Linked DNA regions of Homo sapiens: all the other regions are linked to region 1. Evidence: fine-mapped expression QTL. A gene starts in region 1. Each other region holds a variant in brackets. All regions are shown on one strand. Distances are between the middles of the regions.

The links.
Region 2: its variant is fine-mapped to the expression of PRXL2B in nucleus accumbens (GTEx, PIP 0.95).
Region 3: its variant is fine-mapped to the expression of PRXL2B in whole blood (INTERVAL, PIP 0.90).
Region 4: its variant is fine-mapped to the expression of PRXL2B in whole blood (TOPMed, PIP above 0.99).

The regions. Positions count from the first base shown.
Region 1 is chr1:2,585,421-2,588,154 of GRCh38, forward strand. It overlaps PRXL2B (peroxiredoxin like 2B), which reads left to right and starts at 1,357. Exons shown (of 7, transcript NM_152371.5): 1 at 1,357-1,528; 2 at 1,671-1,875; 3 at 2,321-2,372. The coding sequence starts at 1,466. RefSeq lists an enhancer at 2,165-2,734.
Region 2 is chr1:2,444,598-2,447,331 of GRCh38, forward strand. It overlaps a transcript of PLCH2 not described here. Among named protein-coding and RNA genes, the nearest start is that of PLCH2, 30 kb to the right of the region's middle. RefSeq lists enhancers at 994-1,828, 2,664-2,734. The variant G/A (reference allele first, on the strand shown) is at 1,176.
Region 3 is chr1:2,559,724-2,562,223 of GRCh38, forward strand. TNFRSF14 (TNF receptor superfamily member 14) reads left to right here. Exons shown (of 8, transcript NM_003820.4): 4 at 100-255; 5 at 901-991; 6 at 1,950-2,092. Among named protein-coding and RNA genes, the nearest start is that of TNFRSF14-AS1, 4.0 kb to the left of the region's middle. The variant G/T (reference allele first, on the strand shown) is at 1,479.
Region 4 is chr1:2,807,735-2,810,468 of GRCh38, forward strand. No RefSeq gene overlaps it. Among named protein-coding and RNA genes, the nearest start is that of TTC34, 7.4 kb to the left of the region's middle. The variant C/T (reference allele first, on the strand shown) is at 1,332.

The sequences.
Region 1 (2,734 bases):
GGGCCCCCTCCTGCACAACTCCAGAGGGTAGAGGGCCCCTCCTGCACAGCCCGAGACGGTAGAGGGGTAGCCCTGGTCTCTGGGGGCTGCACTCCTGGGCTCTGGAGCTGCCACAGCTCCTCCCTCCTAGTGCTTCCCCTTCCTTGTTTTGCTTTTTGCCCTTTCTGACATAGTGACGACTTCCGTTTCGCAGTCTGGACCTTCACCACCCCAGGGCGAGGGCACAGGCGAAGCAGCAGCACCCCCCCGGGGCCTCTCTTTATTTGGAATACAGTGTGGGGGCTCCCCCTTCCTTCTCCAGCCCGCCCAGGCCCCTGGAGCTGTCCTGGGGCCTGGGGAGTGAGGACCCGTGCCAGCAGCACAGACTCTGCCAGGCCGGGCCCGCTCAGGTGGGAGCCCAGGCCGGGTGAAGCTGTGACCCGGCCCTCACCCCAACTCGGTGACAAAAGCTATCACAGGGCTGCAGTGGGGGAGGAACAGGACGCATCTGCCAGGCACCTGACCCGCAGTGCACTTCTGGGAGCTGTGCTTATCTCCCCGGGGTCTATTTCGCCCCAAGGTTTGGCGGGTTAAAAGCTGATATGCAACCGGCACGACATGAACAGTATTTCATGATTAAAGACATCGCGTCCATGTATAATTGAGATGCTGCCGCATTTGCGGGGATTTTCAAGCGAAAACCAGGCCACGTGGAAAGGCTAAGCCCTCGCACCCCCCCGCCCCCCACTGCTGGGACCCCCGCCCCGCGGGAGACCCCGGCCCGCGGTCCCCTATGCCCGCGACCCCTGCGCTCACCCTCTCCCCTCAACCCTGAGTCCAGCCCAGTCTCGCGCGAGGCCGCAGGGAGACCCCCGCCGCTCCCTGGACCACCCCTGGGCCCACCGTACCCAGCCGCTCCCCGGCGCCCCCCGGGACGACCCCGAGCCGGCTGCCCGCCTCCCGCCGCATTCCGCACAGGCGCACCGCGCACCGAGGGCCGCACCGCCCAGCTCCGCCTGCTGCGCCAATGGCCGACGGGGTCCAAGTCGGCGGCCCAACGGAGAGGCGGGGCTAGGGGCGGGACCAGGACGCGGGACAGCAACTGTCCCGCAAGGCCCGGATTGAGGAGGCGGGAGGGACCGAAGCAGGCGGACCCAGGATTTGGCGCCGCGATCTCGAGGCTTGGCCTGGAGTAGGAGGGGAAACAAGGCGGGACTAGGGGCGAATCCGAGGGGGCGGAGCAGGGCTCGGGGTGCGGTCGGGGGCGTGGCCGGGGCGCGCTGCGGCCATCTTGGGGGCGGGCCCGGGGCGGAGACGAGCCCGAAGGGGCGGGGCCTCGGCGGCAGCAAGAAAGGCGGGACCGGGGCATCTCGGGGCGGGGCTTGGGGCTGGATCTATGAGCCGGGAGCGGGGATCCAGGAGCGAGGAGCCGGGAGCGGGGAACAGGGAGTCGGGGAGCCGGGAACCAGGGCTGGCAGCGGCCGCCATGAGCACGGTGGACCTTGCTCGCGTGGGCGCGTGCATCCTGAAGCATGCGGTGACCGGGGAGGTGAGGCCGGGTGGACGCAGGGCGGTGGGCGCGTCCCTGGCTCCTTGCCCGGGCGTCCTGGCAGCGATGGGGTGGTGGGGGCCGCGGGGCCTGGGCGGGGCTGGGGGCAACGGGGCGCGCCCATGACCCAGCCGCCCGGCAGGCCGTGGAGCTGCGGAGCCTGTGGCGGGAGCACGCGTGCGTGGTGGCCGGGCTGCGGCGCTTCGGGTGCGTGGTGTGCCGCTGGATCGCCCAGGACCTCAGCAGCCTTGCTGGGCTCCTGGACCAACACGGCGTGCGCCTGGTGGGCGTAGGGCCCGAGGCCCTGGGTCTGCAGGAGTTCCTGGACGGCGACTACTTCGCGGGAGGTGCGTCCTGTTCCCCGCCGCGGCGGCGCACATACCCTTCCCTAAGCTCAGGGCGTTCGGGGCCCTTTCCTGCCCAACCCCGGCCCTTCTGTCTGCTGGAGCGGCCTTGATATGCCCACGGGTCAGCGTCCCTCATCTCTCCCTGCCTCCCCGCCCCGCAGCTGGTGGCTGGGTGGTGCCCTGCACAGACCTGGGCCCAGCAGCAGAGTCTGGACGAGCTCTGCCCCGCCGGCTCCACCTGTTGCCTCTGGGACTCAGCCCCTCTTCTGAGGGGAGGGGGGACACTCAGCCCCGTTTTACCCCTCCCTGCCCTGCGGGGGTGGGCTGAGCACGGAGGGTGGGCAGAGGAACAGAGGGTCGGAAGGAGGAGGGCGATTCTTTGTGGTGAGTGGGTTGGGGGCTGGTTCTGCGCCTGGGGCACACACATGTGGCTTCCGCTTTCCAGAGCTCTACCTGGATGAGAGCAAGCAGCTTTACAAGGAGCTAGGCTTCAAGCGGTGAGTGGGGGCGGGAACCCTTGGGTAGCGTGGGGTGGGGGGCCCAGGGGTTCCCACCGCTCCCTGCCACCTCCTCTCCCTGCTGCCCTCTGTGGTGCTGTCCACTCGGGCCTTCCTGGGCAAGGCGGCTCTGGTGGCACTGTTGACCAGCCCTTCTGCCAGGCCTTCTCTTGGGTGCTGGGTGACTGTAATGAGCCACCTCGTCCGGGGCTTACTCTCGGTGTCCAGACCACCTCGTGGGGTGGAGCCTCGTGGCCCATCAGGGGCCATCCTAGCTTTCTGGTGTCTGTGCCACAGGCTGCTTCCTTTGCTTGGCAGTTGCCAGCTGAGCCAGATCCCTGGGCACACCCAGCCTGGGGCCC
Region 2 (2,734 bases), 140 kb before region 1:
ATTCTTTAGGGAGATGGGCTCTGCTGGAGCTGGTGGAGGAAGATGCCAAGGAGATAAGAGGCTTCCCCTCCCCTCCGCTCCCCGCCTCCCACACTGTCTGGTGACACTGGAGGCAGCCAAGGTGGCCACTGATCCCCACTGTGACCACTGAGACCACTGGAACTGCCCTTCCCCCATGGCCTTCTCCCTCCAGGAGAATGGACCCGATCGGTGTCCCCTTCGTCCCCTGACACGTTGGTCTGGGGAGGCGGGGTCACGGTGCCCCAACACCCCTGACTTGGGGAGCCCATGGTGTCTGCCTGCCTGGGTGTCTGATCCTAGAGACTCCTTCAGCGAGGTGCAGCCTCAGAGGGGATTCAGGCACCATGGGAGGCCGGGGAGGGGCAAGTCAGAGGGCGGAGGCCACTGTCCTATCTCCTGCTTGGTTGGTGGGGACAGAAGCCAGCCTGTTGGTCTCCCCTAGGACCCTGGGCTGATGGGAGAAGTCGTCTCTAAATTGGCCCCCACTATGTTCCCTCTGCACTTAAGCCAGGGCCACATTCTCCGCACTGCCCTAGGGGAGGGTCTGGGGTCTGGAAAGGATGAGGGAGGCAGGTGTGCACTGGGCAAGTGGGTGCCTGTGGCTGTGCTGAGGGTCCCCACAGGCCCCTTCCCTGAGGCTGAACGCCTGATGGCCCTGCCCTCTGGGAGGTGAGAGAGCTGAGCCTGCAGCCTCGTCTGGACGAGGCAGGGAGGGAGACTGGCGCCTGCTTGGCATGTCCCCAGGGAAACCAGGGCAGTGAGAGAAGAGGCTGGAACAGGCCTGGGCAGTGGTCGGGGAACTGGTGGGAGTGTCTGCTGGACAGTGTGTAGAAGACTCGGGGCTCGGGGCTTGGTCTGGTGGCCTTGGCCTCAGATCCCTGAGCATGAGGCTGGGGTCAGGCCTGATGTCCAGCCTCTGGCAGAGCTGGCTGTGGGTGGGGAACAGCTGGGGGTACGGGGGAGGGTGGGGACAGGTTGGCAGCGGCCCCTCCTGTGGGTGACCAGGTAGGGACCCTGCCCAGAGGGGGGAGGCAGAGGAGCTGGTGGGCAGGAGAGACCCCCTACAGACCCTCCTAGGTGGTGGTGGGGGCCTGGCAGCCCGGTTCCCGAGGCCCTCACTGCTGCTGCTGGAGTTCAGGTGACATAATCTGCAC[G/A]GCACACACGGATTGCCGTAAGCCGCAGCAGCCAGGTCTGACAATACGAGTTGTAATTGGATTTTAATTTTTAATGTCCACAACACATGAAGAGCTTCGGACCAATTTGTGTATCTTCTGTTACTCTGCGCCTAATAGGACCGCTTCATTAGCTGCTGTCGCACCCACAGTGCCGTCTGTCCGGGAACGGAGGGAGCCTGGCCCGAGCCCCATGCCAGAGCCCCAAGAGCTGCCTGCCACCTGCTCCAGTGATGGGCACGCCGACGGGAGGGGGGCTGAGGACCAGCCCAGAGGGTCCCTCCCGCTGCCTGGCCGGGCTTCCACCCCCGTCCTGCTTCCCTGTCCACTGCAGTCCTAGCCAGGGTGCTGCCCCTGGCTGCCAGGAAGGGGTGGCCATTGGGGGCTTGGACATCAGTGTACCCACTGAAGGCCCAGCTTCCCCGCTGCTGCCCACTCTGGGGCTGTCACAGGCCCCACTGGGACTCTTGTCTCCAATGGCCCCTGGGCACAAGTGGCCCTGGATTCTGGGGTTCCATTGCCACTCACCCCCCTATTCACTTGTGGCTCAGCCCTGCCTGCGATTTGGGGGTTGAGGCTGGAGTTAAGACCCTGTAGCCAGGTCTCCCGGGGCTGGGGGTGGGGTGGCCCTTGACAGACTGGGGCCCCAGGCAGAAGCAGGAGCTGTGTGCCTCAGGCCCCTCCCTCCCCCCAGCTGCAGGGGTCCCAGGAGGCGGGGCAGCTCCGACTCCGACCGCCCTCCGGATTATTCTTAGGTCTGTTGTGTAACAGGCGCACATTGGAGGCAGAGGGAGGAAGGGCTCCTGGAGATGTCTCCGGCGGCAGCAGCTAGCCAGCCGGGAGAACAGCTTTTGTCCTTTCCACTCGCCCAGCACAAAGGGACAAAGGAGGCTGCCTCGGCTGCCCAGCCCAGCTGAGAGCTGGCCAACCTGGGCCCATGCAGAGGGGTTGGGCTGGCAGAGGGGTTGGGGCTGGCAGAGGGGTCGGGGCCTGCAGAGGGGTCAGAGCCGGCAGGAATGTGATCATCCCTTCACTGCCTCATGCTCCCCAGGGCTGGGCTGAGTCTGGGCTGGGGCTCCTTCCTCCTCCTGCCCCTGCAGCCCCGTGTGTGTGTGCACACCTCTGTGCCCATGCACAAGCACCTTTCCGGGGCCAGCTTCAGGCAGCACGGTGGCCTGGTGGAGGTGGAGGTGGCAGAGGGTACCCACCCCAGCCTCAGAGCCGCCCTCAGGGCTCCTCTTCCTGCCTTCCTCTCCCACCCCCTCATGTGCTCCCAGCAGCCTTTGGGTGTCGATTCCGGGGTCTCCACCCCCGCAGATGGGAGCAGGCTCCTCATGCCTGCCTTCTGAGCTCCCAGTGCAGATCAGACTCTGTGCGTGAGGCTCCAGGAGGAGCCAGGCTTGATGGCAGAAACGAGCAACCTGAGGGGCTTCCAGGGCTAGGGTGGCTGCAGGGTGGGGCCCCAAGTCTGTGGGGGGAGGCCCATTTGCTCACCTCACCCGCATCCTCCAGGACCACTCTGCCTTCAGCTCCTTCTCCCG
Region 3 (2,500 bases), 26 kb before region 1:
CGCCCTGGCAGCAGTCCTTGGCCTGTGGATGCTGTCCTGGCCCGTGGATGGTGTCCCGGCCTCCACGTACCCCTCTCAGCCCCTCCTCTTGGACTCCAGCCATGGGCCTGCGCGCGAGCCGGAACTGCTCCAGGACAGAGAACGCCGTGTGTGGCTGCAGCCCAGGCCACTTCTGCATCGTCCAGGACGGGGACCACTGCGCCGCGTGCCGCGCTTACGCCACCTCCAGCCCGGGCCAGAGGGTGCAGAAGGGAGGTAAGCGGTGGGTGGCGGACACCCCTCCCATTTCCACCCTGGTCCCCAGTGCCCCGCTGTCTGGAGCCCCAGGTTTCCTCGACGGCATGGCCTGCCCAGGGGCCCTGGTGAGACAGAACCTTGGCCAGCCCCAGGCCCACCCACTTCAGCCCTGTCCTGGAAGCAGCCCAGTGGGGAACAGGTGATGGAGGCAGGGGAAGGGGCAAGGAAGGGCCACCCCAGGTTGCTCCACCTCGGGGTTCTGGGACTTCCCAGTCCCCAGGCCTCGCTCTCGGGCCCCTGGTCTGGAGCCTGGGTTTATGGGAGTGACCATGGTTAATGCCACTGTTCAAGCTAAGTCTAGGAGGAGTAAGTGTCCAGCCCTGGCCTGCATCTGGCCGGGCAGCCCCCGCAGCACTGCAGGATGTGGACACAGAGGGACTCCCGGACTCATGAGATCCCAGCTACTCAAGGCCGGGACAGCCAGAGCCACCACCCCAGGCCCCACCTCCAAGACTCTGGACAGGGAGCCTGCCCCTCCCCGCTGGTCCTCCCATCACCCGTAGAGCACCCAGGTCTAGAAGCTCACAGACAAGCAGTCCCTAGCCGCCAGCCCCCTCCTGGCCTGGTGCCCTCAGCCCCCTCTGTCCGTCCCTCTCTTCTCAGGCACCGAGAGTCAGGACACCCTGTGTCAGAACTGCCCCCCGGGGACCTTCTCTCCCAATGGGACCCTGGAGGAATGTCAGCACCAGACCAAGTAAGTGAACCCGGGGGAGGCCCAGCTCTGTGCCCTGGGGAGGGGGCTCCACGTTGCTTCCCTGGGAGATGACCGTCTTCTCCAGCAGAAAGGCTTGAAGGTCCCACCCTGAGCGGCACCCTGGTCACATGCCTGCGTCCAGGAGAGCTGCAGGGCTGAAGCCTGTGTGCCCCAGATAACCCCTTCCATGGGCCCAGACAAAGCCTCATCAGATCTGAGCTTCCTGGAGGCTCAGGATGGGCCTTCCCAGAAGCAGGCCCAGAGGGAGGCTGCCTCCAGATCCCCTGTCCCCTGGGGCTGTGGGTGTCCCTGAATGTCAGGGCCATGGGAGGGCCCCTGGGCTTCAGGGGTTGGGGAAAGTGAACACTCTGCTCTTTGTCCACCTTCGGGAGGACACCTTCAAATGCTGACCCTGGGCCCCTAACTGACCTGAGACTTCAGAGCTTCTTGGGAGGAGCTGGGGTCCCCCAGCGGAGCCTGGGATGGA[G/T]CAGGGATGGCTGCCCCAGGGAGGGGGCGGTGGGGCCTTCCATCCTGCTCTGCCCTCCTCGTCCTCTGGCCCCAGCTCAGTCCTGTCCATCTCCAGCTCTAACCATTTTTGTCCCGACACTGGCTCTCCCTCTACCTTCTGTCCTTGTCTGCCACTGGTCTCCCGTGCTCTGGGGTCTCTGCACTGCTGGCTGCCTCCCGCTTCTCTCCCCTCTCCCTCTGCCGTCCTGTCTCCTTTGCCCAGTCTCTCCTTGTTTCTCTTCTCCTCCTTCCTTCTCTCCACCTCCCCATAGCCGAGCTTGGAAAAGTCAGACAGACCTCTGAGGTCTCATCCTGGAGCTGCCACCAGCCCAGCCTCCCTGGGACCTGTCTTCACTGCCTGGGGCCCTGGGAGCCAGGGAGGCTCCCTGAGGCTGAGTGAACACTGGGCGCTGCACCTGCCTCTCCCACGTCCTCGGCCCCACTCCCGCAGGTGCAGCTGGCTGGTGACGAAGGCCGGAGCTGGGACCAGCAGCTCCCACTGGGTATGGTGGTTTCTCTCAGGGAGCCTCGTCATCGTCATTGTTTGCTCCACAGTTGGCCTAATCATATGTGTGAAAAGAAGAAAGCCAAGGGGTGAGCACACGGCGGCCCCATCAGGGCTCATGTCCCCAGCCGTCACCTCTTGGAGCTCTGTCACCCCAAGCCTGGGAGGTGGCCCCAGAGCTTTTCCAGGATCCGCGGCTCCTCCCAGGGCAGCCACTGCAGGCTGGGGCAGGTGGGCTTTCTGCTGTGGCCAGAGCCCAGGTGTCAGCTGGCCTCCCTGGGGGAAGGGAAGGTGGGACCCCTGACCGTGGAGCCCTCAGCCACCCCTGCCCACGCACTCTATGACCCTGTGCTCCTGCCTGCCCCCTGTGGGATGTGGGGAGCAGGACAGGCCCTGCTCAGCTGGGAGAAGCTCTGGGCTGAGGGTCAACAGCCGCCCTGCTGGGGACAAGGCTTTGTCCTCATTGAGGAGAGTAAGGCCATTCATTCATTCATTCA
Region 4 (2,734 bases), 220 kb after region 1:
AGCAAGCAGGAAGCCCAGGCACAGAGAGATGGGAACCTGCCCCAGGCCTGCAGTCCCAGCAGCTGGTGAGTCCCGGGCCCTGACGCCGCAGCCTCGCTGCTGCCCCTGGACACGCCGGGCAGGTCCTGCTCCAGGGCCTTTTCATCACAAAGAGCCCTGTGCACGCTGGCGTCCACCCTGACTGCGCCATTCAGCCTCCATCCCGTCCTCCTTTCCCATGGTATTTTTGCTCAGGCTCTTGCCTAGTGTCGGCGTGTTCCTGTCTGTCTCCCTGGCAAGAGTGCCGGCTTGCGGGGGCAGGACATGTCCCGTTGATCCCCCGCTCCCCAGTGCCTAGATCAGCCCGACGTGCAGCAGGCTTCCCAGCACTGTGGAGGGGGGCACGTCTGGCCATGAATCGCTCCAGAGTGGGGGCTGAAAATGTTTTTTGGAAAGGGTTCCAATCGCAAAGTTTACATTCCACTCAACCGTGGCAGCACAAAAGCAGCCGTGGACAGCATGCAGACACACAGGCCAGCCCTGCGCCCGCACCGTCCGATGTTGGCATCCTCAAACCAGATACCTGGCCGGCTACCTGCCGCCTCACACACCCACCACGCTCCATTTCAGACCCTCTGGGCCTTGCTGGCCTTCTCTTTGTTTGATGTGGGCTCTGAGTGATTTTGGACAGGCACCACCCAACACAGCAGGGCTGACTCTTGCCTCCTGCCCGGGTTCCTGAGGACGCAGCCACAGGGCCATGCCCAGAGCCTGCAGGGCAGTCAACACCCGGGGGCCTGGAGGAGTGGGGAGTGTGAGCGCCTCTCCTTTTCTGCTGCACAAGAGAGGCCCCGGGCGCAGGTTGCTGCATGGGGTCCCCCGGGCCAGGTGCGGGGGACACCTGGGGACTTGTCTTCCTCGGGGCCACCTCCTATGGCTTCCCTGTCCCATCAGTACCACTGCTCGGGGGACTGTTCTTCCTGTTAGGATAACGGCCCCAAGGCCCCCCCCACCCCCATTAGGCTGTGCTTTCTGGGGAGCCCAGGTCAAGGTGGTCTCGGAAAGCAGACCCTTAGGGTGGGATTTTGGAGCTGGGTCACTCACTGGCCTGAGGGCCACAGGGCCCTGGTGCTGGTGGGAAGGGGGGCGGTGAGGACCCTGCCAGGCAGCCTCATGGTGCCCTGGCCTCACTGGGCCACGGAGACAGGAGGAGCTCGGTGGGGACGCACGGTGGAAGGTCTGGGGCTGTGGAGGAGCTGGGGCTGCCGGCCTCGCAGGTGTGGTTGGGGTGGGTGGGGCTGCCGTGGGCCTGGCTCCATGGCTCTGTGCAGGTGGCAGCCGGCGCCGCGTGT[C/T]GCCACCCACACAGGAAAGGCGAGATTGGTGGCAGAGGCCGTGTCCGCGTCATCATGGGAGCTGCAGCTCTTCCCTTAGTTCCCTGCACCCACTTATTGAGGGGGGCTGGTCCTCCTGGGAAAGGACCTGGCAGCATCCCCGGGCGTGGGACACATGCCTCGCAGCAGAGTTGGGGGACACGGGGCTGTGCCCGCCCTCCCTGCACTAGAACCAGCAGCAGCAAACAGCCCCCAGCTCGGCCGCTGACCATGTCCTGCTCGGGTCTCCCGGGCTGGCCCTGGCCCGCTTAGCCTGGACTCAGGTGCCTGTGGCCGGCTGCTCGTGCCTTCCCATCCTGGGGCAACCCGGGGAGTGGCAGTGCAGCCTCGGCTGAGACGGCCGCCATCCCTGCCCTCAGGTCTCCTATGGGGAAGCAGAAACATGCCCGATGGCTCTGGGGGTGGGCAAGCACCAGCAACTGGCACAGGCCACTCCTGGCACAGGGGGAGGTGGCCTTATCAAGGGTGAGGACACAAACCCAGAGAAGGGAGGGGACATGGGGCAAAGCCACCTGCCCTGCGCCTCAAGGGACCTGTGGCCTTGGCCTGGGAAGTGCCACATGGGAAGGAGGTGTGGGCCTGCTGAGCACGGTCATGTGTGGGCCTGGCCCAAGGCTCCGCCAGCAGGTAGGGTGGGGTGGTTCTCGCCCTCTTGGGCCTAGGGCCTCACCCTGGGATGCCTCGAGTGATGTATCTGCCCGGCCCCATGGCAGGCGAGTCCGATTCCTTGGATCCGGCCTGGATCTGCCTGAGCGAGAGCCTCCTGGGAGTCCAGAGCAGCAAGTGGAGAACTCGCTCTGAGAAGCGCGTGGACTCCCTGGCGAGGCCGTGGCCCCAGCTGAACCTATGGCCTGGGTTCCACCACCCTCACCTCCCACTGCTCCTTGGTCACAGTGGGCCCAGCAGGCCACAGCACGGCATTACGGGACGTACTGCCTCCTTCCTGGCACCAGCCTCTGCCTGGTCAGTTTCCTTTTCTAGAACCTTCTTCCTGGTTCCCTGGACTCTGCTTAGACATTTGGCCCTCCCAGGACCCCCTGAGCCCTCCTGAGCCCTGGCCCCTGCTCCATGTGCCCCTCGGTCCGGCAGCCTGCAGCCCCCGCCCTCCCCTAGCCGTGCCCATGCAGTCCCAGGCCTGAGACTGGCTGCGGGGGGGGGGGGGGGTACACGTGCTCCTGGACTGAACGCTGCTACCGTAACTTCATCAGCACCCTCCAGGCGAGGACCACGTGTCCAGCCCCTGCTGTGCACACGACTGAGGGTTGTCGGTTCCCCGAGCTCAGCTGAACTCCCTCCTGCCAGCTAGCCGTCCCCATCGCCCGGACTGGGGAACAGTCCTCCTGGGGATGCCGCACTCCTCTCCA